4 separate regions of the Homo sapiens genome follow, and all the other regions are reported to be linked to region 2. Evidence: microRNA targets listed by miRTarBase, many of them from high-throughput screens and not tested one by one. Region 2 holds a microRNA gene; each other region holds the end of a gene's coding sequence.

Region 1 (8,552 bases), not on the chromosome of region 2:
CAAACATAGAAAAAGAATAGATTGACATGCAAGAAATTGCGTTTAGCCTTTTACTACCTGATGTTCAACACTCAGGGAAGGCAAAGGGGGACAGACAAACTTGGGGAAACAAAGAAGAAACAGAAAAGACCAGGATGTTAAAGTCTCCTGTGTGGTTCATGAAAAAATAGAAAATAAAAAAAGACCAAGACTTGGGGGAAGAAATAGACTGTAAAGGACAATGATAGTGGTATTCTCGCCAATACAGTATGGTATAAAAACCTAAATAATAATATGTGTGTGTGTGTGTGTGTGTGTATATATAGATACTTTTCAAAAATAAGTTCTCTCTTGAAAGGATGGGGAAGAGGCAAGAAGAAATAAGCCCACAAAATCTATTCTCAAGCTCCAAGATATTGCTAGATGGTTATTTTGAGCATCACAATCCTACCTAGTTTACACTTTTTTCTTATCCCCCAGGATTTGCTCTTGGCCGCTTTGGGGATGCAGAAGAGAGGCCCATAGGAAACTCAGGTTGAGGCCCCTTTGTTGCTTTTGAAAAAGTAGAGGTTAAAGGAAAATGCCCACCTTAAAAAATAAAAACAAAACAAAACACTCAAGTGGCCAACTGCAGGACGAGGGCCTACTTAATGTTCAGTTCTGAATCAACACTGAAATTATTTTCATCTTAGGTTGACAGGGAAAATCTAGGTCCTGCCTAAAAATGTGATGCATTTTGAATCACTAAACTAGCATTAGGTGTGTGACTACAGAAAGGAGCCAGCAGTTGCTATCAGCACCTTGAAGAATTCAAGATCTCTGCTTAGCAAAAGAAAACCAAAATACAGACGACCTGGGTGCTCGGCCCACCATTCAAAGCCAACAGGGGATGGAAAGCTATGTTTTCAGGATGTTACAGAAGCACACATATATATTTTCCCACTGCATGAAATTAAATTAGACTGCGTACTCTTATTTTTCCCACTTGCGTTATGATGGTATCAATAAGAGTGCAGTTTAGATTTTTTTAGTTTTTTAAAATCAACTTTCACATAAAAATATGCATGTGCCTATATTTATACACATCTGTATTTACGTACAATTGTCAAAGTCTTAAAGGCTGGGGTTTATATCTCTGCCCATCCCCTCCCAACCCCAAAATCCCTAATAGAAAGGTTTTCATCTTGCTTAAAAAGACAAAACAACTAAAAAGACTATAGCTCTTAGCAGTCAGGCTGGTGGATCAGTGAATGAGAGAGGACAAATTGGCGAATCAGGGCTGCCGATCAGCCGCACGGGGCGCGGAGGATGGGGTTGGGGGGATTAGCTGCCTTGGGCTGAGTTTGCTGGTCCTGAAGATTACAGTTTTGGTTAGAGAGAGAAGCCTGTCTAGCATGCTGACTCGGTCTACCTCAAGCTTTGAAAGTAATGTCTAACCCTGCTGCCAGTTTATCACAAGTGCATTAAAAATATAGAGATCTATCAAGTTCCACATTTATATGCAATCAAACTGAAAAGGACCAGACAAACAGTGCAAAGGTCAAATAATTACTGTTTTATATTGGGACAGTACATTTCAGATTTCAACCAAAAGACAAAAATGCAGTTTAACTCAAAGGCACAACAATTGAAACACAGAAAATAATGGCATCTCTTGGATGCCTTATTTCTAAATTAAACAAAGAAGTACACAAATTTTGTTCCCTTCCCTCCCCCAGTGCAAGCCCACAAGCTTTTTCCAAAGTCTTGAGCTTTTGATGCTGTCCCGCATTGTGGACTTGTGAGGCGCTTGGATGTAGCAATGAAACAAAATGCTTGAGAGGTCTAGTGAATGGCATTCAAAAGGGACCTCAAAGTGCAGACATATCTTTTTCAAATATGTTACAGGCTGAACTGGCTCTTTGAACACTATCACTCTGCTTAAATCCAGGAAGCAGGCTTTAAAAATGCAAAAGGCATACAAGTTGTATTTCAGTGCAAATCTTTAGCTGGTTATTGGAAAAGATTCCAAAAATTAAAAAAAAAAAAAAAAAATCCTTTGTGTCACCTGCCCCTCCCCCCACCCAAAGCCAAAATGAAGAAAAGACAGAACAAAACAAAAACAGAAGAATTACAGGTGACTTTGGAATCATTTAGGAATCCACTACTTCCAATCAGAATGTTTAGAAAAATACATTAAAGAATCATTTTTTAAAAAACACAAAAGTAATCTTGCTTTCTGAGACTGCTCTTCGGGTATAGAATGAGCTTCCGTGTGGAGTGCGTTTGAACTTTGACCTTAGCTGTGTGCGAGGTGCAGGCGCTGGGGGAGCTTCAGGCTGTGGTGTGCGAGTGACCGCAGGGGAGCGTGGGGTGGCTGCCCGCTGCCGAGTCAGCCGTTGAGCCCTTAGGTCGCAGTGCGTCCGTGGATTTTAGTAATGTTCTCATCACTTTGTGACACACTCTGCTTCAGCATCACAGATTTTACAAATGGTTCAAATTCAATGAAAAAGATTCGCCAGAGGCTGAAAACATCAAGACCTCAAAAATATGAATGCAAAAATATTCAGGGGAATGAACTAATTTTGTAGATACCTACATACAAAGTTTCTAGAACATCTATAAAACCACAAAGTCATAAGAATTTGTTTTCCATTACATTAGTTTATATAAAATGAATAAATAGTATTTATAGATTTAATGTGTCTTATGTACATATACATGTGCTCTGTTTTAGCTTAAATAAAAATGCTACAAAGTCGGAGACCACTTAAGGGAGAAATCATAACCAAAAAGAAAAATCAGCCTTTTAAACTATCAACCCAAAAGCCTCCATAAAGAAGTTTCTGGGTGTGTCCAAAAATAATCAATAAGGAGAGGAGTTCTAGTAACAGTGTACCATCCTCTCCTGTTCACCTGCAACAGAGAGTAGAAATGTGGACTTTTTCTTTCACTGATAATGGCTACTAGCTCTGCTAGTGCCACAGCTCAGTTATTGCTGAAAGTTCAATAGGAAAATAGATTATAATTGGACCAAATGTCACTATTTTGGGGGGGGAAAAAAGGATAATCACTGTGTTAAGTGGGAAATGGAGATCTCATTTATCTCTGAGGTAGGAAAAAAAAATGTTCCAGAGACAAGTAGCATTAACAAAGTTGGAGGGGAGAATGTGCCTCGAGATAGCAGAACACAGCGAGGTCCCAAGAACATCGCACAAAAATAGATTGTACCGTTTTGTTTGTGAGAACAAACAATTTGGAACTTTGATGAGCTGTGCAACCCCAGAGACACACTATCAAGGTGTCCATTTTAAAGTGAGAAATACTGCTCCCATCCACACGCGGCGCGTCGGGGGAATGAGCATGCGCGGTGTGAAGGGCGTGTTTTCTAGAGGTATTCCTGACTTCCTCACTGGTGGTGAGGTCCATGGTTAAGTGCTCTTAAATGCTGCTTTCAAAGCTTACTTTGGAGTTCTGAGATCAGGATCTCAATTTCAAAAGTTTGTTTCCTTCAGTTTCCTAAGTACAAGACACACTTGGACATTCCTCCTAGGCAAGTAACACAGTAAGCCAGAAAACTGGAAGAAAGGTCTGGGAGAGGACACGAGGAGAGCAAAGAGGGGGATTGCTGAGATGTGGACATTGCTTATTCGGTCTAAGAATTCTTGGATGCTTCAAATTGATTGGAATGTATAGTCTCTCAGAGACAAATTTTTATGGCGAGAAAAAGAGAAGCTAGTGGATGCAATCAGAAACCCACAATCCTAAGCACCTCCTTGAAAACAGTTACAAAGCTGATTTTGGTCAAGGTGGGACACTGAAGTTTACGTGCAAGGGAGTTGTGGGCAGGTCCAATACGTTACCTAATCAGAACCAACAGGGAGAACCTTCAAGGAGACAGCCGCAGTGCCCACTCTCTTAGAGACCAAGACACGCCTTGTGACTGTCCTGCAGCTTTATTCTCTTGATGCTGGTGCTGGAATAGCCCTCATCACTGCCGAGGCTCTGCATGCTGCCCCGCTCGTCAGAGTCGCTCACACTGCTGCTGCTCCAGTCCAGATCACCTGTGAGATAGTCCGTGCTCTCCACGTCAACGTCGATTTCTTCTGCAGGGAGGACAAGAGAGAAGGACATTGATGAAAGCGCTCTGCAGAAAGCTCAGGCGTGGTGGCTCATGCTTGTAATCCCAGCACTTTGGGAGGCAAAGGCGGGTGGATCACTTGAGGTTAGGAGTTTGAGACCAGCTGGGCCAACACAGTGAAACCCTGTTTCTACTAATACAAAAATTTGGCTGGGTGTGGTGGCTCACGCCTGTAATCCCAGCACTTTGGGAGGCCAAGGTGGGTGAATTACTTGAGGTCAGGAGTTCGAGACCAGCCTGGCCAATATGGTGAAACCTCATCTCTACAAAAATAGGAAAATTTGCCAGGCATTGTGGTGTGTGCCTGTAATCCCAGCTGCTTGGGAGGCTTAGGCAGGGGAATCGCTTGAACCCGGGAGGCGGAGGTTGCAGTGAGCCAAGATCACACCACTGCACTCCAGCCTGGGTGACAGAGCAAGATTCCGTCTCAAAACAAAACAAAACAAACTAGGCTGAAAACTGACACCAATCAAACTCTTCTGGGGTTGTCACCTAAGTGTTAGCAGGGAGAAGGAACCTGTCACTGGAGGTCACACTGTTCGACTTCTCTACATCATACCCAGTGTCTTAGTTCTTCTTACACTCTGCCTCCTGTCCGCAGTACTGAACCCCTGCTCTGGGGTTGGGGAGCACAAGGGAGACAGGGAGGAGAGTGAGAGAGGCTCACCCCTGTCGGAGTCGGAGCGCTCCGAGGAGACGGTGGAGCCGATGCTGTCCATCCGGATCCTCTCAATGCCCAGCTTCTCCAGCTGCCTCTTCAGGTGTCGCTGCTCTCGCTGAAGCTGGTCGATTTGGTGAACGGCTTTTCTGTCACAATCTTCAAGTTTCTGCAAGTCAAAGGGGTAGTTGTTGGGCCCCACAGGGAGATCTCTAAATGGGCAATGGCCCCCGCATCTTCCCTTCTAGCAGTGGAATGCGCCACACTTCCTCAGACGCCTTTCGGTGCCACTCATCAAGCTTCTCCCTGAGACAGGAAGTCGACTGGCCAGTGACTCCTGGCTTCGTCTGACTCTTCAGCATCGCCAGTGCTGGGGGTACTTGTCCTGTCACAGGGATTCTGGGGGTGAGCTCTCACATACTGGCACCCTGGTAGCCCTCAGTTTTAGTATCAGAAAGACTGCAGGCAGCAGTCCCCAACCTGATCTCCCTTGTTTGCAGCAATCCCCTGAACACCTGATCTCCGGACTAGAAAACTGCACTTGATGGGAGCTTAAGAAACACGCTTCCATTTAAAACTATGTTTATTCAAGTACATGTCCCAATTACATAAGCACTTTTTTGTGTCATGCCAAATCTCAATTAACTTCTGTTTGTTAGCAGGAAATAATAGTCCCTTTTGATGTCCTGATTCTAATTTGTCCAACAGAAGAGTTTAGAAAACACATTTCCATAGAATACTCATTTTTATAAATCTGCCCCCAGCTTCTCATATTCTTCAGATAATTAAGAAGATTGTTTAATTGTAGCTGTTTTGCTTTAAATAGAGGTTTTCTCCCAGAATTGTCATGAATGCAGGCTTCTAACCATAATTAAAGTAACATTTGTCCAACTATAATATGATTATACAAACATGCTAAACAGGGATTTTGGCTGTGGCTCTCAAGACTTTGAATCCAATTCCCCTTACCCTTTGCTATTCAGGTAGCAAAGAGAGTGTCAACTCTGTGCCCGATACCCTAGGAGGTGCTGGGGCTGTGAGGTGAGCACAAAGACCCAGTCCCCTCCCTCGTGGGGTGTATAGTCTAAGGATTGAGACAACACAATGGTCACACAAACCACTGTCAAATGTCAGTTATGACAGGGCTAAGAGATACCCAGTGATGGGACCACCTGTCACAGGAAGGAGGTCACTGAGTTGGGAAAGTCAGCGAAGGATTATCAGAGCTAGAGAGACTTGCACTGTGATCTGAAGAATAAGTAGAAGTCCTCTAGGTGAAGAAGAGAGAGGAAAGTGTACCAAGCAGAGGGAAGAGCATTGACAAAGGCCCTAAAGTAAGACAATATGACAGTGCCAGGGACTGGAAGAAGGGCTGGAGAAAGGGGAATTGGGGAACAAGATGGTGCTGCAGAGGCAAGTGAGGACCAGGCAAGGCAGAATCTGGGGCAGACCAGGTGACAGAGCTTGTCCTGAGCCACAGAAGAATTTTAAACAAGGTCACGTGTTGATTTGCACCTTGGAAGGACTGTTCTCAGGAAGCATGGAAAGCAGACGGGAGGGACCCAGAGGGATATAGGGAGACCTCTGAGGATTTTATTGCAGTAGACAGTGGGGATGAAGATGGAAGTAGACCGGTTGCAAAATATTTAGGCCTTGGAGATGGCCTAGATATATGGTTAAGGAGCAGGAGCTATCACGGACTCCTGAATTTCTGGCTTGTACAACTGGATGGAGAGTTGGATGGACCATTTAACCTCTGGTGCATGGGAGTGAGAAACACTCAGTTGGGTTTTGAATATGTTGCATTTGAGGTACCTGTGATTCATCCAATAGCTAGACTGGAGGAGTTCAGGGGAGAGGACTGTCCTGGAGATGTAACAACAGACAAACCCTCACTGAACAGGTAAAGATAAAGCAGCATCCCAACAATACACTTACCTTTATGTGCAATTTGGCTTTTGTTAATAAACTCAACGTAGTGTGTCGACTTGATTCGGGTCCAAGTGGCACCAGCCCCTTCAACTTCTCCAGGCACAAGCGAAGATGAGCCCGTCTATGAAAACAAGACCACAGTAGCATTTGAGAGTTTCACAGTGGGCCAGAAGCACCCCAGGCAGAATGAGTTCTCAAAGAGTGTGAAGTTGCCCAGGCCTTGCGATGGCAAATGCTACCAATGACCTTTTGCTGAATAAACATATTTTGAACCAGACAACTCTGGTGAAAACCAATGAGAAGCAAAATCCAAGGTTTTCGAAGCTAAGTCTATTGATAATACAAGTGCTGGGGTAGGGAATAATATCTGCTATTATATAGTCATTCACATGTGTAAATACTATATACAGTAATGGTCCCTGACTCATGATGGTTCAACTTACAATTTTTTAAATTTATAATGAGTTTATTGAAGTATTAAATGCATATTAGACTTGGGATGTTTTTTATTTATGATGGGCTTCTTGAGACATAACCCCATCATAAGTCAAGGAGCATATATATCTGTGGAGTTATTTGTTGAAGCTTTATTTGTAATAGCAAAGATTGAAACAACCCAAATGACCACCCAGGAGGGAACTGGTTAAATAAATTATGCTACATCCACACCGTGTAGTACTATGTAGCTATCAAAAAGAATGAGAATGTGCTTTATGTCCTATTAGGAAAGATTTTCCAGATATATTGTTAAGTGGAGAAAAGCAAGATTCCAAACTGTGAGTATACCATGCTATCTTAAAGATGGAGGAAAACAAGAATCTATATTCATGTTTTCTTGTATGTAGACAAACTCTGGAATGACACATAAGAAACTGGCTGGGCAGGGAGAAGGCAAGGAACAGTCAGACAGAGATAAGGAAGGAAGTGATGGGGGTTTTTACTGAGTCATTTTTTATACTTTTTGTTCTTGGAGTATGTCAGACTGATGCAATGGCACGGAGTGGGAGAGGGAGAAGGGCTGGATGAAGCAGCAGCCACGGCAACTGACTGAAGAGAGAGCACGAGAGTTGCTCCAACTGAGAAATTTACATTTCCTTGAAATGGTTTGTGCTTTATTCTAGAACCTGGAAAATTCTATGAATGTAAGAAGCAGCTGAGATTTGGGGGTTTTGCTTAAGCTTACCACCTCCTTAAAGCCTTCCCAAGCCATCCTAGCTCACAGTGATTCCTCTATTTTCTAAGCACCACTTAACTGTTTATATTATTCACTGGGAAGTTCACTGTACTGCCTGACTTGTTTCATATTTCTTACTTAACCATTCATTGCAGTCTCCTTAGAAAGTCAGGATTGCAGCTTAATCATTGCTGTGCTGTCACCGTGCCTCAAACACACACATGCTTAATAAGTGTTTGCTGAATGGATTATGTCATCTATTCAACTAGACTTTAAGCTTCTAGAGGACAGAGTCCATCTCTACTGCATCTTTGCACCTTCAGCAGTGCTCAGAGTCTTCAGGTTTTAGATAACATTCATTGCCCACACACAACCTACTTGGAGCAGAGTTCCCTGGGGTCTAGGAGGCTCCCCTCCAGCTGAATTGGGAAACAATGCAATGCCTTATAGGTTTGCCCTTTTTCCTCTTAAGAATTGTACTGTAATAGCAAAAGTTGAAAATATAGACCAAAGAAAGGAAATGGCTTCAGAAAGCTATAGGACAGGTGAATATGCATGATATTAATGTAAGAAGTCAATTCACACTCTCCAGGGAGACTTCAGGATGTTCCCCTAAGGCAGGGCTAGTAAGCAAGGCATTAGACTTCCTTCCTTCTGAGCCTCCTGCCTCTTCTAGGTCATGAGGAAGT
Region 2 (4,000 bases):
GATGATGCCTCTGAGTGTTCTAAGAGTCAGAATCCCCTGGAATCTGGCTCTGATCCCCTGCTCCGAATCCCTGTTTAAGCTCTCTTCCCAATGCCCTGTTTATCCTAGGTTTGAGGCCCCATCTTCCTCTTGCTAGATACAGTTAAGCCAGAGAGACCCAGATTTAAATCCTGCTCTCTCATTAGCTGTGTCATCTTGCACAGAGTAGCATCAGCCTCACCGAGCCTCAGTTTCCTCATCTGTAAAATGGAGGTAATACCAGTCCCGTCATCATCCAGTTGCTGTGAGGATTAAATGAATTGCTGAGTTGCCGCACACAAAGCATCTGGTCCAGTTCCTGGCACAGAGTGAGGGTTCAGTTTATTTTCATTCCTTTTCTCTTTAATCCAGTTGTACAAAGAGGCAGAGCTGTCCCATTTGACCAGAGAATTTTACTTCTGTAGCTCTTTAAATTCTCTCCCCGCCATGTACATATGGGCTTAGCTAAGTATTTTGAGATCACAGTGTATTTAGGGGAAAGTCCTTTTGGCTACAGCTAAAATTAGGCCTCTCTTGTGCTCCTCTGTTTACCACCCCCCTTCCTATTTTAACTAATTAGAGGCATTGACACTAAGAAACACTTAAGAAAAGTTGGAAGAACAGCTGGGAGTTGTTCTAGATACAAGCAGCTGCTCCCTGTCAGCATGCAGGCACAGAAAAGGATGATCCTGAATGGGGAAGTGCAGGGAGGGCACCTCAGAGATGAAGATGAGGAATGGCAAAGTCTGTCTATGTTGTGGCAAACTGAGCAGGGTGGAGTTCTTATCACTCTGTCCTCTACCTTCTGCTGAGAGAAAAGGGGGGTCAGAGATACCAAAGCAGATAGAGGAAAGGGGGGCAAGAAAGGGGAAGGGAAGGAAGGTATTCAGGAGCTTAGCTAGTTGGTTAGTTGATTACTTTATGCAGACCACTGTCGCCCCCACCTAGACCACTGCGGTATCTCCTAACTGGTCTCATGCTGCCGGCTGCTTTCCTGCTGGAACCAGAGACGTCACAGGAACATGCAATTCTTGCACCCTGAAATCCCCGCGACGAGCTTCCACCATGGAATTTAGACAGAATTCCAAAACCCATCACATGGCCCCCGAGTACCTGGATGCACCTTCCCCCTGTTCCCCGTAATTGTTACTGCTCAGTCCTGCTGGCTTCTGTTCATTCGCTCTGCTTCAAAGGACTTTCTCTCCTGGAGCCAGATTGCCTGAGTTTAATCCAGGTTTCCCTACTCGCTACTACTACTTACAGGCCTCTCCATCTCCCTTCCAGCCTTAAACACCTACTGAGCTCCCCTGGAATTCCCTGTCCACGTCCTACACACTCTCCTCATGGAGTCCCCGGGCCTGTGCACCCCCAAATAAAAGTTTCTGTGTTTCCAGATGGCCATGGTGACTGTGCATAAAGCCTAGCAAATGTGCATCAAGCCAGAAGACACGAGACCTTTCCAAAGGGCTCATGTCTTCTGGCCTGATGCACATTTTTGTGTCCCCTGCCCCATCTCCTCCTCACTACCCTCGGGAAACTGGGTGATGTCTCTGTGGGAAGGGCTGAGCCTCAGGCTCTGTATTGATTGTCCAGTGCTGCATTTAAACTTCCTGACTGGATATTCAGAACTTATGCTGTTGTTTTGTTTTGTTTTGTTTTGTTTTTTTGTTTTGTTTTGTTTTTTAAAGCAAGCACCTTCACATCTCAGGTGTAAATGCCAGATCTTCTAACACTTACAAGGACAAATTCATTTCTTACTAAATAGTCAAGCTTAAAACCCACATGACTGGCTGATGTAAGCTTTGGCCTTGTCTGTGAGGAATTTTTGCAACATTATTTCTCTTGATTTCTTTCTTTGTTGCTGCTGTTCTCAGAACAAGGCAAGGCTGAGGTTCTCCTTCTCAGTTACTCCATGTCCCTGAATTAAGCCCTGTGAGATCTAAAAACAGGAGCTCTGTGCACACAGCCGTAAGGACAAACCCTCACTCTGCATCCCCCTAAGTGGGCCACATGCCTAAGCCCAGAAATCTAAGAGTTACTTCTAACAACTTTCTCTCCCTAACACCCTCATCTGGTCTGTCACTGAAGCATGTTTTCTGCCTCCTGAGCATCTCTCATATCTGGGTGATAAGAGAGCCACCTTGATGTCCCCTGGCCCTTGCTGACCTCAGCAGAGCCTTTGGGTGACAGTAGCTCTGGCTTCCCAGGGCCCTTGGAAAGGAGACTGTGGGGTCCGCGTGGTATGGCCCTGCCTGCCTCTTGGTTCTGTTTCACCCACACTTCCCTTCACTCTTATCTGCTCCAACAACACAGCCTTTCTCATTCCTCAAGTATCAGTTTTCTTTTCTTTTTCTTTTTATTTATTTCAGTAGGGTTTTGGGGAACAGGTGTTGTATGGTTACATGAATAAGTTCTTTTCTGAGACAGGGTCTTGCTCTGGTGACCAGACTGGAGTGCAGTGGTACCATAACAGCTCACTGCAGCCTTGACCTCCTGGGCTCACGTGATCCTCCCATCTCACCTCCCAGGTAGCTGGGACCGCAGGCGTGCACCGCCACACCCAGCTAATTTTTTGTGTTTTTTTGTAGAGACGGGGTTTTGCCACATTGGCCAGACTGATCTAGAACTCCTGGCTCAAGCAATCCACCCACCTTGGCCTCCCAGAGTTCTGGGATTACAGGCGTGAGTCAAGTGTCATTTTTCGTCCTTCCGTATGGCCCTCTCCTCTGCTAGACACATGCTTCCCCCTCCTTCAGCCATTAATACCTGTGCATCCCTTGAATCTCAGCTAAGCTATGACATACATGAAGCATACATGCATATAGACACAGACATACATACCATTCAACCTAACATGAGGTGATTGAGGAATGCCGAGACCCTCCTCTCCCCTCTCAGTGCCCTGAAGCAGCCCCTGGGGGAGGGGATGGCCCTGGTCCCTCTGACTCTGACAGGGACTGCCCTCCCACAGAGAGAGGAAGGCCTCGGGAGCTGGTTGTGGGCTCACCTCTGTGGTACTGCTCTTCCTCCTGCTTCTGAGCAGAGAAGGCCTGGGGGCCAAGGTGCCCAGGGGCTGTGGACAAGATCCTTTTATGCTCTGTCCTTGCCTCTAATGTGACAGATTATTTTGTAATTACCTGGCAGAGATAAGTTTGGTTTCTGCAAATAAACTAGCAAAGATTCCAAGGTTATTAAACACAACCTTGCCTCATCTATCTGGTCATATCCAAAAACCTTAAAAGAATTTTTGTTCTTCTGAATTTCACTCTCCAAGGCACAAAGACCAGGTGATGGTGGGGCAGGGGTAGAGAGAGGGATGGGAAGACTTCTCACAGTGATTCGAGAACGTTCACACACACATACGCACACAAAAACCTTCACTCTCCCCCTCTCCAACCCCACCCCACTGACTGCACACATGTCTTGGCCCCCTTGAGAATCCCTTTTCCATAGACAAGCCCTCTGAGGTAAGAGGTTTAGGCCTCCTTCCTGCTTTAGTTAACATCTTGTCTCCACAGAACCACATCCAACCTTCCATTTTTCTCCAACCTCTTTAGCTCATGAGGAAGATTTACAGCCTGGGAGTCAGGAGGCCCAAGTTCTAGTCCTTGCTTTGACACCAGGTGATATTGTGGTCTTCTCTGAGTATTGTTGGTTCACTCTTATGAGAGCATTCTCAGACCTGTGGCATTTTCACCATTGAATCCACTGTGCACAGAGGTAACCAACATTTGTGACACCTGCTGTTTGCAAAACACTGAGCTAAGAATTAGTGATTACTTCTCAACCCACCATCTCTACAAGGCAGCTATGACTCCTGTTTTATCTATTTATGAAGGAAGACAGAGCTTAGCAAAATTAAGAATGCTGCTCAGACCCACAAACAGGTAAGATTAGAGGCAGGTTTCAAAACGAGGTCTCTGTCTCCAGAGTTTCTGCCATCACAGTAAGCTGAGTCTCAACTGTACTATAGAAAAATAAA
Region 3 (8,552 bases), not on the chromosome of region 2:
CTCTGGGTAGATAGTACTGGAACTGAATTGGAAGACACCCAACTGGTGGCCACTGCTTGGTAGTGGGGAGAAACTCCCACACATTTGGTCATAGAAGTCTTCTTCTGTGTTGATGGTTGTTGTGGTGTGAGAGCAGAGGAAAAACATGGTTTCAGAGTTTTTCCTGAAATAGAGACTCCTGAAATAGACAGTCAGTATGTGAGTCTGCACATGCCTCTGCCCACTGGCCTGGCAAATTCTGGGCTTTGGCTAGAAGGTCTCTAACAGCTACTGATGCCAGCACTGAGGACACAGATTCACTGGATTAGCAGTGCCAGGAGGCCAGGGAGATTGTCTGCCTACCATTCCTTCCTCAGCAGCCAGAACAGGGCCTGCCACAAAGAAGATGCTCAATAAATGTTTGTCGAGTGACTGACTGGATACTTGGTGCCTACTCTATGCTGCGTGTTGTATATGCACATGGCATTTAAGCTTCACTGAGGTCCTTTGCGTAGGCACTACTCATTTTGCAGATGAGGACACCATAGCCTGGAAGTGGGAAATGACTTCCCCAAGATCTCACAGTGAAACTGTGGGGCTTTGCTTTAAAAACCACAGCCTATGTTTCATCCACAATACAATTCTAATTTAATATAATGATGGCCTATAGGTCATCCAGCCAGGATTATGTCCCCATAGAGAGGGCCAGAGAGAACAGAAAGAGAAGGCATGTAAGTGGAGGAGAAGCAAGCCTGGATGAAAAATGCAGAAACAAAACAATCAGATACCCTTTCCTAGTGCTCCCTAAGAACTAACACCCCATCAGTCTTGCTATAAAACAGGCCCCCTCGCCCCTCTGACTCTTCAGCCCTGCAACAACCCATCAGTCTTGCTATAAAACAGGCCCCCTCGCCCCTCTGACTCTTCAGCCCTGCCTCTTCCATCTCAGAATGCTCAGGGACGAGGCACTCTTTGGGGCTCCATTCGTCATGCATGGCAACGGCAACATGCCTTTGCAGCAGCATGAACTCGGGTCCCCGGCCCTGGGAGGTGACATGGGGAGAGTAAGCAAGGGCAGATGTCCCTTTAATGACAGCTGTTTTCCAGCCCTTGCTGGGTATAAAGGCACTGGCCAGTCATGCCACATCATAAACCAACATGGGGTCTTTGGTCTCCCAGATGCAACATTTCATTTTCCTTCTGGCTAAACAAGGAGAATGCACTGTTTTCATGACCACGTTTCCTCCACTTCCCACACTCCCACGCTGGCTCCTCATCCTTGGGCCTTCTGAGACCCCTGGTATGAAACCAGGTAACAAACACATCAAAAAGCTTAAGAGCTTTCTTATAAGCATCTTGGCACTGAAAACTCCTCTGTAAGTAAATCCTCCTCATGGAGGAAAGACAATTAAGGACAGAGGGAACCCGTGCTCAGCCCACAGGGATGTCTAAGAGGATTCGTTTTTTCTGCCCCGGCTCTCTGGGTTCTGGGGAGGGTGAACCAGAGTGAGGAAGCAGGCTGAGAGTCCCTGAGGTCTGCTGGCCTGACTTCCAGACATGCAGAGGTCACAGACAGCATCAGCACCCACTCCCTACAGGCCAGGCTTCTGTTCAACGCCCACCTCCCCTGACCTCAGGGACCCCTGCTCTGCGACAGGTTCACTTTTACCTCCTCAATGTTTGTGATAATCAGCACGGGACAATGCAGTCCGTATGTTAATGACACCAAAACACACAAGTAAAATAGCCAACAACAACAACAACGAAAAAGAGGTTGGGAATGTCCATCCATCAGTAGAGGAATATTTAAATACACTGTATTGAGGAATACTACAAGGCAGTCTTACATGTAAAGCTCTCCAAGATATATCTTGAAGTTGAGATGCAATTCAAAGAGCAAGACGTAATATATTGGTAGAAATTATGTTAATGATGATGATGATAGCGGTAATAGAAGCTAACACATACGGAGGACTTAGCGCACGCCAGGCACTACTCTGAGCATTTCATTTATATTATCTCAGTTTACACACATTAATTCCAAAGAAAGCCTTTGAGATAGGTGCTCTTATTACCCCCATTTTACAGATAATGAAACTGAGCTGTCAGTTTTCTTGTCTGTTCCTCTGCATTATCTCAATTTTTTAATAATGAGACAGTTTTCATGCATAACACATGCCAAAACCCCATTAATGATTAAGAGAGAGACTGGAGCCAATATTTACAGAACACTTGCCATCAGGTCTCACTGACCCTTAATAACATCCCTGTGAGGAAGGCATTACAGGTGCCAATTCAATCACTGAAGAACTAGAGGTTCAGAGAGGTGGCATCACTTTCCCAAGGTCAAAGAGCCAGTAGGTACCTAAGGATCTAGGATTTGATCCCAAAGCTCATGCTCTTCCATATTAGTTGGGGCTGAGAGATGCTTAATCAGTCTGTGCTGATTCGAATTCACTTTCCTTCCTTCCTCTCTGTGTTTTTCAGTGTAGAGTATGATTTTCGGCAGCAGGAAGGCAGGTTCCATGAAGTTTTGCAGAGTCTGGAGGAAGCAGAGCCAGTTGAGGAGGCATCGCCCCCACCAAAGTCCCCAGCAGAACCCCCAGCCCCGGAAAAGCAGGACTTAAGGCGGAAAACCAAGAAGGTGAAAAAGAAATGCTTCTGGTGGATCTGAGCTGGTTGGGACCATCCCCCAGCCCCCCAACTCCACGCACTTCCCTGAGATGGGAAATCCACTGCACTTAAGGCCTGCCCTGCTTCTTTGCAAAGGCCCTGGGCTGTGAGCCCCTTGGCCTGTGAAACAGAAGAGCCTTGGAGCTGATGTAGCCGCTGCTGGACACCTGACCACGATCCTTACCTGAGTGCGTGCGACTGCTTGCTGAGGGCTTCACGGACACTAGAGTGACCGCTTGCCAAGTTCCCTGTCACACTCAGCCAGAACTCATGCTGAGTTTTAAGACCAGATTCCCACCACGAGCAAAACCCCACACTACACCTTCCAACACCTCCAAGATGCCAAGCACTTCCTTCCCATCCTGGGTTCATAAACCCAAAAGAAAAAAATAGTGTTGTGCAGACCCGGAAGGTAGAGGGAGGTTATAGGTTATAAGCAGGTACCATAGAAAAAAATGAGATAAACTGGCAGTTTTCTAAGATATCAGCATACATAATAAGCACAAGAGAAGTGGGCAGGGCATAAAATGCTTATGCAAGATCACCCTGGTGTGTTGGGTTGTTTTCCTTTTTAATTAGCCCCTTGATCCCAAATTAAGGCTCTGTCATCTCATGGTGCATGCACCTTTCTGCCTGTGGCAGAGTCAGGCCACCCCAGGGTATAAACTTGTTGGTGTGGCTGTGCTGGATAAGTGTAATTCAAAGAGGATTTCAGCAGCTGTAGCTGTTCCAGGGCCCACCCTAAACCATCATGCTTCTTCTCTGCCTAGGGCCTGAGACCACCTGGCAAATGGGTGGAATCTGTTTTTGGTGTGAACTTTAAGACTCCATAGTTAACTTACCTGCAATATTTAAAATCATGAGATCCAGCAACCTGTCCATCAGTTACATCTTATGAGTAACATAGATAAGGCTAAGATAAAACACAACACTGTTTCTCATCCCTTCATCCCAGAAACAGCCGTGTAGATAGGTTCAAACATATATTAATCGACACAGTCTCCCTTCCTGGTGACCAGACAATGGTCACCTGATTGAAAAACTAGCAGGACTATGGATGAGGATATAGTTTTTTCTATTTGAGGTTTAAATATCTTTCCATCCCAAAGTCTGAGTTATTCAAGGTCTGGCTCATTCTGTTGACAAGACCTACATACATGTGGATCCAGTCAAACTTGCATGGCTGAACAAACTACTAAAGTAATATAATTAAGTAATTGCTATATACTCTTGTGGATGAGGGGTAGGATGGAAAGGCTCAGATTCCTTCTGGTTGAATTAAAATCTCTATCAGCATGTGGTTAGATTGACATTGCTAGAAAGGGAGCCTGAAACTAAACATACATTAAACGAAGAAGGTATTTTGTAATTCCCTTGGCTGAAGATCCAGTGTCTAAGCTAGAATCTTTGCAGAGCACAGAATCCTGTGTGTTCGTGGGATGTACCTACCCCACTGCAAATTGAGCCTAATTGAGCAAACCACTCCGATGGTTTCACCTTCCCCTGTCATAGTGATGCAGTGAACAAAGCTATTTCAGTGAGAATGAAAGGGAAATTTGGCAAGGAATATCAGCTTGCACTATTTAAGTCTTGGAATGTCATTCAAGATGTTCTTGTTCTGTTTCTAGTGTAATGTTTAAGCCCACAGAATCAGACCGGAATATATAACGTCATGTTAGAATTAAGATAAATACACTTGTCATACTTAAGAAGCCACATTTCAATAAGATATGCTACCACTGGCTAAAAGCCACAGATTTTTTTTTTCCTGTATCCATACGATCAACTGTCAGTTGGCCCCAGCAATGGAAAAGAACAGAATAGAGGATAATCCAATAAAGTGAAATCATTTGGGACCTCTTATGTAATTTTATCTTGTAGTAGAGCTTCCATCTTAATTTGCTTTGCTTACGCTAATTTCATGTGAATTTATATTCTCGGGCATCATGCTAGAATGTAAATAACCCTGTTCCCAGAATTAAGAGATCCAGGCAACCAAGCAGTCTATACCACTAGCCTTTGGCAAATGGCTTAAATTTCCCGGCCTGTTTGTCCATTCTTGAATACAGATAAGAACATATGCTTTCCTACTTTATAAACTCTTAGCACGTTCCACATTATGTGAGCTGAGTGACTCAGAGCTGAGCTGGATTACTGGCCAAAGTTAGCCTGGGAAGATAAAGAGATGTTTGAGGTACCTCACACAAAATTAATAAGCTGATGTGGTCATAGATATGTTTCCAGTTGAGGCCCTCACATGAACCCTTAACTGAATTAAATAAAACTGGGACTAGAAAATGTTGACATTTTCTGCACTTCCCCAACAAAAAAAAAAGAAAAGAAAAGAAAAGAAAAAAATAAATAAAATGTTGACATTTCTAGAAATACAGCCAAACAAGGCTGTACTGATTCTACACCAAAGCACAACACCGCATTGCTTGGGCCACTGACCTGAAACTGGGAAGGAGTTCTCTTCTGAAAAATTGATATTTAAAATCATTATGAGGAAATAGGATTCCATAAACATTTTCCTGATGAACAAAAATGGTCGTCTCTATGTTTAAAACACCACACACACATATACCAAAACTGCATACTCACTTATTCATGTGAAAATCACTGCTTCTTTGTAAAATATTACGTAACATCTACCATGATATTCTACAGAAATGCTGTACTTGAGGTTATCTGGTTTGCTGGAGAGATATTAACTTAGCAAAAATTACTTTTATAAAATTGAAAGGAAAAAGACCAATACATCAACTTAAATTGCAGGAGTTTATGTAGCTGCTTTCTCTGTAGTTTAAAAAGCAATGCATAAATGCATACTCACTATCCTTGGAACTTAATACCAGCTCATCTATAGAGCACCTTCTTAAAGACGATGTACTGATGTAAGGTTTTGTAAATTTCTAAACTGTTTTAAACGGGATATTATCTTTTGCAATAAACTTACATATTTTTTCTAGGTTTTAAGACTCCATTACTAGCTTGGGTTGATTTCAGTTATAAAATGTATGCTTAAGAAGGACACCTCAATGGTCCTAAGGGCAAGTATGGCTTTCATTATAATTGCTTCTATATATTTCTAAGGGAAATAAATAAAGAGCAGATTCAGAACTTAGTGTCACGATGATCACATGAAGCCCCGCGTGTCCCGTGAGTGAGGGAGGCAGCATGAATAAATGGAGAGCTGCTCCCAGCCTCATTCCATGGATGTACAGGCATGATTTGTATCATTATACTCAGACACCTGAACTCTAATTTATCCAGTACTTTTCTTTATTTCCCCCTTAATTTTTTTCCTTAAAAGGCAAATTTATATCGCCAATGTGAAGAAAAACAATATCATGTTCCAAAAATAGAATATGAAATAAAAATATCTTATTAAGTTCTTGCTAAACCCTGTTGCTATTGAGGCTGCTAAGCCTGAGACCAGCTCTCTGTTAAGATGGGAGATTAGCAAATATTCAACACATACGAAAGGCACATTCACACCAAGCCCATTTTCTACTTGACTAAACAGGATGTTTGAGAGAGAATTGAAAAGAAAACAACTTTCCTGTCATGTGATTCAGTATTCCTTTTCCTGCCTTCTCCACGAACCATCTAAAACCAGCTTGGGTTTACACCTGGAGAGTGAGTCTCCCACTTTGGGAAACATCAATTTAGAGAAACAATAACAAAAACAAACCCTGGACATAGAATCAGAAGTCTTGGGTTTGACAGCAGTCTGCTATCTTATTTTTGCTGCATAAACTTGAGCAAGTTGCTTAGTTTCTGTGAGCCTCTGATTCCTCTGATATACCCCCTGCCTCCCAAGAGTGCCTTGACAATGAACTGAGTGACAGCCAAGAACACAATGTAGGGTACACATTGGGCCAGGTGCTCAACAAGCACATATTCAGTCATTTGTGGATTGAAGTAAATTGGGAGAGAGAAAGGAAGATACCTCCGTGAAGCTGCAGTGGTTTTCAGAAACAGGTTTTTCTCGGGGCAAGGGAAGAACACTTTCTGTGGGCACGATGGCTCACACCTGTAATACCAACACTTTGGGAAGCCAAGGTAGGAGGATTGCTTGAGCTCAGGAGTTTGAGACCAACCTGGGCAAAGTAGTGAGACCCCGTCAAACAATTAAAAAATTAGTCAAGAGTGTGGCTCACACCTCTGGTCCCCACTAATCAGGAGGCTGAGGCAGGAGGATAGCTTAAACCCAAGAGGGCTGGAGTTAGCTGTGACCATGCCACTGCACTCCAACCTAGGTGACGGAGCAATAGTCTGTCTCAAAAAAAAAAAAGAAAAAAAAAAAAAAAAAGAAGGATCCACCAGAAACCACGACAGTTAATGTTAAGTAATAAAGTCGCCCATGATTCAAAAGAGCACATGGGCACATAAAATACAGCACAGCACTCCGGGAATTAAAGATTCTTGTTGTGTGGAATCAAATATCCTAGAGGTAAAAGAGACTTTAAGAGCCAGGTCCCTTCCATTTTAAGCACAAGTCAATTAAGGAAGGCTAAATGATTTGTCCAAGGGCTTATAGCAATCCTGTGGGGAAGTAGGTGTTGGGAGCAATGTGGTTGGTGGGTGGAATGTGTGAGGGGCCAGGGCCATTCCAGGAAGCATAAGGCTAGACTTGAAACCCGTTCTTACCTTCATTAGCTGAGCTGAATCCTCAATATAACCTTCACTTGAAAAGGCTCTCATTTTAAGCTGCTCAAGGCAACTTGCTGTATGCTAAAAATGTATTTCTTTTTATAAATGCCAAGAAACAAAGATGTTTTATGATCACTACGCCCATCAAGCATTGCTTGCAAGAAAAAGTGCGGGGGACAAATCCTAATCCAACACTGTCAGCATTCAGCACAAACCACATTTGACTGGTTTAATGAACATAATCCCATTTTTGAGTACTTTCACCTCAACTTCCTCCCCATCTTCTTTTCACCAATTTACAGCCTAAATTTCGATGGACCATATCATACCACCCCTACTCCTGAGGTTTTGCAAATGTCTAATTTCTCTCTGCCTCCTACAGAACTCTCAGCCCATAAAGAGCAGGGATGCATCCGTTGGCAACACACAGAGTTTGGTTCTCTCATTGCCAGACTAAGCCAAGTTCTCAGGTCAGCGTGCCTCTCCACTGTGGGCATCCTGTTCTAAACCCACTTCATTTCTCAACTGGCCTCTGCAGGAACCTCCCCAACAGGTCTCCCCACATGCAATCTCTTCTTTTATACTTATTTTTTAAATATATTTTGAAACAGGGTCTCACTCTGTCACCCAGGCTGAAGTGCAGTGGCACTATCATAGCTCACTGCAGCCTAAAACTCCTAGGCTCCAGCAATCCTTTCACCTCAGCCTCCCCAGTAACTGGGATTACAGGTGCTTACCACCACAACCCACTAATGTTTTTTTTAAAATAATTATTTTCTGTAAAGACTGAGCCTTGCTATGTTGTCCAAGCTGGTCTCAAACTCCTGGCTCAAGCAATCCTCCTGCCTCAACCTCCCAAAGTGCTGGGATTACAGGTGCACGACACCGTACCCAGCCCCTCTCTCACTTCTCAAATATCTTCTCCACATAGCAGCCAAAGCAATCATTGCAAAATTTGGATGGGAATAACATTACACTCTGACTTAGAACTGTTCAGTGGCTTCCCAATATACTTAGGAAGTAAGACTAGGTATGTTGCTCTGGCCCGAAGCCCTGCACATCCTGCCCTGCCTCTCCTGTAAGCTCCCACCACAGGCCCTTCCGGTGTTTGTCTTCCAGTCTCAGCCAGCCTTCTTGGCTTTCTTGGACCTACCACGCCTTCAGTCCCTGAAGGCTCCTGTTCCTCCTGCCTTCAATACTCCCCACCTACACCACCCTCCCTGCCCAGCAGCTCTGTTGGGGTT
Region 4 (8,552 bases), not on the chromosome of region 2:
TATCTTCAGTTTTGTGAATAACAAAACTAGCAATATTTTAATTATCTATCTAGAGATTTTTTAGATTGAATTCTTGTCTTGTACTAGGATCTAGCATATTTCACTATTCTGTGGATGAATACATAGTTTGTGGGGAAAACAAACGTTCAGCTAGGGGCAAAAAGCATGACTGCTTTTTCCTGTCTGGCATGGAATCACGCAGTCACCTTGGGCATTTAGTTTACTAGAAATTCTTTACCTTAAGCAGCACACACATTTACTACACACACAGTGTTAACAAAGCACTGTGCTTAGAGGGTAAAAAGGAATCACAAAACAAGAATCTTTCCAAAGTTGTCTCATTCAGCAATGTTAAGGCATCTGTATCAAATTATTTTGGATGTAAAGATTCCTGTGTCTCATAATATGAATGTATTTTTTGATATACAAGAAACTGACATAAAATGTGAGAAAACCACCTATAATTTACCACTGTGAACAATTATATATCTATCTGCTTCATCTTTTCTCAAATGCATCAATTCTCTAAAATTCCTATATTGTAACTTGCCTTTTTTTAAAAAAGTTAGATGCTGATATAAAGTCTGCTTAATTGTCAACTTAATGAGCTCTATTTTGTGTAGTTATATCTTTATCCATTCCTCTTTTATGGACATTTAGGTTGTTTCCAACTTGTTGCTATTACTGCAACATATTTTTGTACACAGGACTTTTTCCTTCTTTCATTTTTGTTTTTCTCTGTATAAAGGCCCAGCAGTGAATTATATTGGGTCAAAGGATATAGACGTTTTCATGGCCTCACACATATTAAACTTTTTTTGTATAAAGGTTACAGCAATTTATACTTTTTTCAGTAATTAAAATATAGCTATTTCACTGAAATATTTCCAGCACTGAGCATTAATACCTAGTTTGCATTTTGTTTACTAAAAAGGTTGACCAGTGTGTTGATTCTTCTTTTATCTGATAAAGTGTGAAGCAACTAGAGAACACTTATTTGTTCAAAGTAACTAGTCCTATTGATATACAAAAACCACAACAACTTCCCTGGATACTATTTTGAAATGAACACATCAATTTTTATTTGAATGTAGGTATTCTTCACACTGAAAAACCAAATCAAGATCCAAACTGACTTTATGTATGTATATATCTCTCAATGCAAGCAATATCAAACTTCATTTTCTCTACAAAAATGCCAAGTTAGTCTCTTTATAAAAAGCAGTTACAATCTGAAGACATTCATGTTACTTCCTTTGCCAGCTCCAACTCTGCCTTATTTAAATCTTTGCATTTCATGGGAAACATTAATTCTATCTATGGCAGAGCCACTTGGTTTGTTAGCAGACTGATTTGCTGTCATCAGACTGTGAGATGATTTTTTGTGTGCATCATTTTTTTCTTGACCAGCTTTTTGAAAATTAAGAAATGGATAGTCATGTTTTCTTCAGGTTCTCAAGTATTGTCAGCATCCGTAAATCCCTTCCACTCTGGGAAATACTACTGCTCCCTGCTTCCCATGGCTTCCACATCAGTCCAGGACTTTTTCTACACAAATTATTCTGGCTCTGCCTCCTTGACCTTGGTATTCTTAGCATTATTTTTCCCATTTTTTTGCAATGGAGTTTTTAATGGAGGTCATTGATTTCTGATCACAGACTTGAAGAGCTATGATCCACATTTCCAAGCTGCTTGGGGTCCCTGGTTTACAGTGTCTCCAGCATTCTGTACCTAGAGCCACATCTAAAGGGCAGGGAATCTCCAGTGTGGTTTTTTGTTTTTTTGTTTTTTGTTTTGGAGTCTTGCTCTGTCACCCAGGCTGTCTGACAAGTAGAAGACATATCCACTGTAGCAAGGAACACTATGGAGTATATGAGTTAGGGAAAAGAGACTGTGAAGGGAAGAGAACAAACATTTTGTAGACGTTTGGTGTTGAATATATGCTATGGAGGCAGTTTCTATAGTTTCATTTACTTCATGAGGTTTCATTTTTTCTTTTCTGAGATGGAGTCTTGCTCTGTTGCCCAGGCTGGAGTGCAGTGGTGTGATCTCAGCTCACTGCAACCTCCACCTCCCGGGTTCAAGCGATTCTCCTGCCTCAGCCTCCCTAGTAGTTGGGACTACAGGCGCCCACCACCACGCCCGGCTAAATTTTTGTATTTTTAGTAGACATGGGGTTTCACCATATTGGCCAGGCTGGTCTCAAACTCCTGACCTTGTGATCTGCCTGCCTTGGCCTCCCAAAGTACAGGGATTACAGGCATGAGCCACCACGCTTGGCCAATGGGTTGGTTCTTAACATGTATTTTTATTTATAAGAATGGGAGTATAATTTATTTTCAAATGATGATGAATCTCCTGAGTCACATTTTTACCCTCATTTAAACTATTGTCTTTTATATAGACTATAAGTGGATATAGAGTATGTTTTGCTGTATCTCAATTCTCTACCATTCCTAGCATATAATACATAATTTTAGGGTAGCCCTCCTGCCATTCCTTGTTAGCACTACTTTCAATAAAATGAGAGTATTAAATATTGGCAGAGTATCTGAAATATGAAATAATTTTAGGTTGCTTTGATCTTTAAAGAAGTTGCATTATATATTTTACTATTTAGATCCACACTGTTGATACAATCATACATATCACACAAAATTTTAGCTTTGAAATGCATTTATTTTCTGATTATTGGAATTCATCCTTCATGAAATTTTTAGAGTAGTGTTTTAAATTAAGCTCCAGAGTGTAACTGCAACCAAATAGCAATACATACAAGTGGTTTTCCATTCAAATTTACAAAAGCATTATTTATTAGTAATAAAAATATAGAAGGAATTCAGTTTTCCTTTTATCCCCAATTTTTTGCTTTTAAAAGACCATTTACTAACATCCTACTGTAGATATTTCGAGAGACAGATGAAAATAATAATAATAAAGATTATTATAGCCAAATCATCCAGTTAGCCAGGAGTTTGATGACTGGATATTTCAGAGTCTACTGCGGGTTTTAAATATTTTGTTAGCAAATGAATTCATCTGTATGATGAGAGACTTACATGTTTTATAGCTGAAAACCTAAGGAGTGACAATAGTACATGTGACATTCTTAACAGTTAAAAACTGAGTAAGTCCTGTTCATTAGGTAGGTGCCATGTGGAACAAGCTTTCACCTCATCAATGCATTTTGTTTTCAGAGAAACAGACTAATGATAGATTAATGGGAACATTTTATCAGGTTAGCAGTAACTATTTCAAAGGTTTTGAAAAGTATGCTAATAATTAACAATATCTTATATTAAAAGGGTCCAACACTAAGTTGGGACATTAGGTCCTAAGGCCAACTCCCTATTCTAAGGTCTTCAGAAAAGGTCCAGTTTCCTAAAACTCACAGGTCCAAGGAGTACATGTTATTTATTGAGAGTTCCTTCTGAGCACTGCACTGCCAACTTCTAAAGCAACCACCTAGAACTTCACTCCATAATGAGGAAAAAGTTTTCATCCTCTTTTTGGTAGTTTTAGCTTTATTTTGAAAAAGTAACGTGTGCTATCAACTTTGGGCAGATACAAAGGAAATCATTTAACCTGGTTTTATTTAACTATATTGCCTTATATGGGTCATTCTATATACTATTTAATTCATAGACAGAGACTGGAAAAGGAAAAGGAAACCTGAGGAACTCTGAAATATGGCAGTTATTCCACAGCGATATGTCTACGCAAAAGATTAGCCGTAATGTTAAAAAAGTAGATTAGAGCACAAATGCACAATCACCTGGAATCTTGGAAAAGTTTTTCTTTAGTATACATGGTTTCATAAAATTAAAGTTATTTAAGAGAATGAAGGGTCTTGGAAAAAAAATGTCAATTTTTGAAGGCTTTAAGAATTGATTAAATTGAGAAATTAACATGGCTGACTTTCAGGCCTACTTAATTATTTTAAATGACTAATTATGGTTAGGTTTAAAATACAGCAGTGCAAATTAAAAATTCAAATATGTAACAAAGCTCTCTCTTCAGTTCTTATTTAAAAAAAGATAAAACTAGGTACATAAAATTATATTACAGGAACTGTAACTATCCTCAGAGATTACTTTTTTTAAATATAGAAAGGTAACACGCTTTTAGCCACACAGCTAACATGAAAAAGAACTAACTAGAACACATATAACAAGTGATTTTTCTGCCAATAAAGACAAAAGACTATTTGTTGCAAAGTATTATTTTGTGCAAAAATTAAAGAGGAGAGTAGAGAGTAGAAAATTGAAGAGAGTAGAAAAGATGACTCATTAGCAGTATCCACTGTTTGTTAGGAACTGAATTTTGCCCCCAAAACCTATGTCACTATCAGCAATGGGAGTGGTGACAACTGGTGACATAAAAATAAGCATTTTACATTACTGTGAAATAGATAATGCCAGATCATTTCAATATAATGAAAAGCAAAAATTTACTTTTTAATTTTTTTTATTTTTCCATCTAAAATGGCAAAGAGAACATTTACTTTTGATCACTTAACAAGGACACACCCAGGAAATTTGATTTTCTCAACATTAGGAGGATGAGGGGAGTACAGATGGAAAAACAAAAGATAAAACACAAAAGGAGTACATAAAACATTGTTTAGTACAAATAATGAAAAATGACTTCATGACATTTTCCAATAAAAGTTATTTTTACAGATTTTGCAATGCTGTAAAAACCAGGTATATTGAAAGGGGTTATTTATAGGTTAAAAATAAAGCCATTGATGAGTGATAATCAGTTTTAACAGAGTTCACGCAATTATCTTAGCTGGAAAGCTACTGTCCCAAGTGACAAAATTTATGTCCTGACACATGATTACATATTAAATCATTTTGTAAAAGAAATGATTCTGTATGTGGGACTGACAGCTCTTGAGAAAGTGCTATACAAACAAGGTTATAGAAATGTTGAAGTGATTGATAATCTTAAAATACCATACAAAAATGTGTAAACAAAAGGATGGTTTAGAGTTGCAGGGCATTATAAAATATGTAATTTTAGTTAAGACTAATAATAATATTTTTGTGCACTTTAAAAATGGTTAGTGTAATCTTGTAAGTTCAAAGCTGGGTTCTCAGTGAGCAGCAAAAGGTGTTAGATGCATCACCACACTTCACAGGACCTCCTGAATGACTGCAGATGTGCTGTGTACCTTCTTAAGGGGCTTTGGCTGACCTTATGAGAGCAGGAGCTCACCATGCTTATGGGTGACTATATCAAAAAGATCTGCAATAAGGCTCACCTGGGAGATGCTCTAGCATTCAAATTCCTATACTCCTCTTTTATCTACGCTGTCAGATGAAAACTGCTTACTGCTTTTAAAAGATATAATAAACAATATAAATTCTGATAGTAAAGCACTATAAAAATTAGGTATGATATTTTTGGCACAAAGCACTTTTTAAACCCAAGCTCATTTTGCAAAATATATGTCTAGAGTTTATCATTTGAAAATAAAAACATATACACAATATGTAAATGGTTTTATAAGTGAATTAATTAGAATGTACATTTTCTTAAATACTGCACATACCTTCAGCTTACTCCAGTACCAGACATCTGCATGCACACCCCACATTCTACATTACACAGATATTGCACAAGTTTCAATGCCAAAATACTAATGCAGTCTGGCAAGATTTAGGGTTTACCTTTCAGTATTATTTTGTGAAAGTATTCAGATTCAATACTATTTCGCAGAAAAGCTACATGACCAATTTCAGGAAAAGAATGCTTGCTATCTTTCCTTGATCCACAGTATTAAAATCTGTAACAATATATTTAGGCATTTCATTTATGTTTTCCAGCATTTAAAATTCCGCAAAACCTGTGTTTGAAATTTCTTATAGCATTCCTTTACAAACAGGAGAAGCTTCGTCTAATGTAAAAAAAATTAAAGGAGTCCACAGGGCAATAATTTTTCCACCAGAGGTCTCACTCTACATTCTGAAAAGCACTGCAGAGCAATATTTAAGTCTGTCACTTTCAGAGAGCCATTAGGAGCAAAGTCTGCTGAAAACCTTGTAACATACCATGACAGCTGGATGGGTTTCTTAATGCATTGCACAATGTAATTCAATTGTTTTCCTCCCAAAACATCTTAGGGTATGCTACAGCTGCTAAAAGGATTTCTGTTTTTCTTGGTCCTTTGTTTGTTGGGTCTAAGATTGATGACATCTCCACCATTGAGGGTACCTGAATTCTGACCGGAGTGACTTCCACCAGATGTATTAAAGACACCTGTATAAATTGAGGGAAAAGAGTGATTGCCACTGACACGCCTGAGTTACCTGTTGCATCCAGCTTGTTAGTAAAATCAGTAATATTTTCAAGTATTTACAGTTTCTCTAAAATTGTAGTAAAATCCAACAAAATTTAGCATCTTAACCATTTTTAGGCATACGGTTCAGTGGTATTAAATACATTTGTAATGTTGTGGAACAATCACCCCCGTCCATCTCCATAACTCTTTTCATCTTTAAAACTGAAACTCATACCCATTAAACAGTAACTAACTCCCCATTCCCCCTCCCTGCAGACCTTAGCAACCACCATTCTATCTTCTGTCTCTTATGATTTTAACTACTCTACCTTATATAAATGGAATAATAGTGTCTTTTTGGGACTGACTTATTTCATTTAGCATAATGTCTTCAAGGTTCATCCAACGTAGAACACTGAAGCATTTCCTTCCTTTTTAAGGGTGAATAATATTCCATTGTATGTATATACCACATTTTGCTTATCCTTTCATACATCAATGGACACAGATTTATGATTTTAAAGCTCTTGTTTTAGTTTTACTTTTAGTAGCTAATACGCATGGTACAAAGTTCCAAGGCTGTAAAAGAGGTCACATTAGGGCTCTTTTTTACCCAGATTTTCACCCCTTGCCAGTTTTCCCACCCCTAAGGTACGCATGTTATTACTTTTCCTACTTATCCTTCCAGATATAGTTTATGCATATATAAGCTAAAATGCATATATATTCTCTTTTCTACCTAAGTTGTGGCATATTCTACACAATGTTCTGCATCTTTTGACTTAACAATTTATCTTTGACGTTTGGAATCAGCAAATACGATAATTTTTATTTATTTATTTTTTGAAGACGGAGTCTCGCTCTGTCGCCAGGCTGGAGTGCAGTTGTGTGATTTTGGCTCACCGCAACTTCCGCCTCTTGGAGTCAATTGATTCTCCTGCCTCAGCCTCCCGAGTAGCTGGGACTACAGCCGCCTGCCGCCACGCCCGGCTAATTTTTCATATTTTAGTAGAGACGGGCTTTCACCGTGTTACCCAGGCTGGTCTCAAAGTCCTAAGCTCAGGCAATCCACCTGCCTGGGATTAGAGGTGTGCTAGGATTACAGGCATGAGCCACCACACCTGGCAACTACGATAATTTTAATAACTTACTAACTTCACATCATATCACTTCCTCAAGAATACCTTTTAGTTAACAACAGTAACAACAGTATTTCTGAGTTGTGTGTGTGTGTGTGTTTTAAGAGATAGGGTCTTGCTCTGTCACCAGGCTGGAGTGCAGTGGTGCAATCATAGCTCATTGCAGCCTTTAACTCCTGGGCTCCAGCAGTCCTGCCTCAGCCTCCTGAGTAACTGGGACTACAGGCACAGGAATGCCATCAGCTAATTTTTCTTTTTTTTTTTAAGAGACAGGATATTGCTATGTTGTCTAAGTTGGTCTCAAACTGTCGGCCTCAAGCAATCCTCCTGCTTCAACCTCCCAAATAGCTGGGATTATAGGCACAAGCAACCACACCCAGCTATTTGTGAGATTCTGTGTTAATACTAGTAAGATACGTTTTTCCTACTTATACTAAACCAGTAAAAAAGTGGCCCACAGATAAAAGTGATGAGTAGCTAAAAGATAAAGAACTTTATAGTTTCCATTTTGAACTGTGCTATTCACAAAATGTAATCTCCAATTTATGATATAGCATCCATGACACACAAAATTCTGGGCCAGAGATACTGTCAGGGATACAAAGGTGACTAAGACCAGTTCTCGCCCACAAGAAGTTTACAATGTAATAAGACAAGACAGTAAACAAGTAATGCCATATGACATTATATGTTAAGTGTCATAAAAGAGACACAAAATCTTACAGAAGTTTCAAAGGAAGGACAGATTGCATCTGATACATAAGAAAGGAAAAACTACATGAAGAAGGTAGAACTGGACACTTGGCAGTGCCCTGGGCTTAGATGTCTATTCTTTTAGAAGATGGAGGCTGGGCAGTGGCTCACACCTATAATCCCAACCCTTTGGGAAGCCGAGACAGGAGGATCACTTGAGCCCAGGAGTTCAAGACCAGCCTGGACAACACAGTGAGACTCTGTTTCTTTAAAAAAGAAAGAAAAAGAGTATGGAGGATGTGTCTTCAGGCAGGCAGATACACAACTGAAAACTTTCTAGAAAGGCCTTGAGGAATGAATTGTTCTTCGACAGAAGATGGGAAAGAGGTCATTCTCAATAGAAGAAAAAAAATGACCAAAAGTGAAGAAGA

What was found. The annotated mature microRNA hsa-miR-4711-5p reads UGCAUCAGGCCAGAAGACAUGAG and lies in region 2 at 1,486-1,508, opposite strand. An mRNA with a match to its seed (bases 2 to 7 or 8) in the 3' UTR can be bound and repressed. Matches are read on the target gene's strand: a 7mer-m8 pairs with bases 2 to 8, a 7mer-A1 pairs with bases 2 to 7 and ends in A, and an 8mer does both.
Region 1: the mRNA of MXD1 is a reported target of hsa-miR-4711-5p. The part of its 3' UTR that is shown has no 7-base or 8-base seed match.
Region 3: the mRNA of INSYN2B is a reported target of hsa-miR-4711-5p. Seed matches in the 3' UTR shown: 7mer-A1 at 4,165-4,171.
Region 4: the mRNA of RAB23 is a reported target of hsa-miR-4711-5p. Seed matches in the 3' UTR shown: 7mer-A1 at 5,127-5,133.

Annotation. Positions count from the first base shown.
Region 1 is chr2:69,933,609-69,942,160 of GRCh38, reverse strand. MXD1 (MAX dimerization protein 1) reads right to left here. Exons shown (of 6, transcript NM_002357.4): 4 at 6,696-6,810; 5 at 4,767-4,926; 6 at 1-4,064. The coding sequence ends at 3,877. It also overlaps a transcript of ASPRV1 not described here. Among named protein-coding and RNA genes, the nearest start is that of MXD1, 23 kb to the right of the region's middle. RefSeq lists an enhancer at 4,317-4,852.
Region 2 is chr1:59,731,784-59,735,783 of GRCh38, forward strand. MIR4711 (microRNA 4711) reads right to left here and starts at 1,513; the gene lies at 1,444-1,513. All of the region lies in intron 14 of FGGY (FGGY carbohydrate kinase domain containing), which reads left to right.
Region 3 is chr5:169,858,374-169,866,925 of GRCh38, reverse strand. INSYN2B (inhibitory synaptic factor family member 2B) reads left to right here. Exons shown (of 4, transcript NM_001129891.3): 4 at 2,467-5,623. The coding sequence ends at 2,653. All of the region lies in intron 27 of DOCK2 (dedicator of cytokinesis 2), which reads right to left. Among named protein-coding and RNA genes, the nearest start is that of INSYN2B, 120 kb to the left of the region's middle.
Region 4 is chr6:57,184,334-57,192,885 of GRCh38, forward strand. It overlaps RAB23 (RAB23, member RAS oncogene family), which reads right to left. Exons shown (of 7, transcript NM_016277.5): 7 at 2,659-6,267. The coding sequence ends at 6,128. It overlaps BAG2 (BAG cochaperone 2), which reads left to right. Exons shown (of 3, transcript NM_004282.4): 3 at 1-5,500. Among named protein-coding and RNA genes, the nearest start is that of BAG2, 16 kb to the left of the region's middle.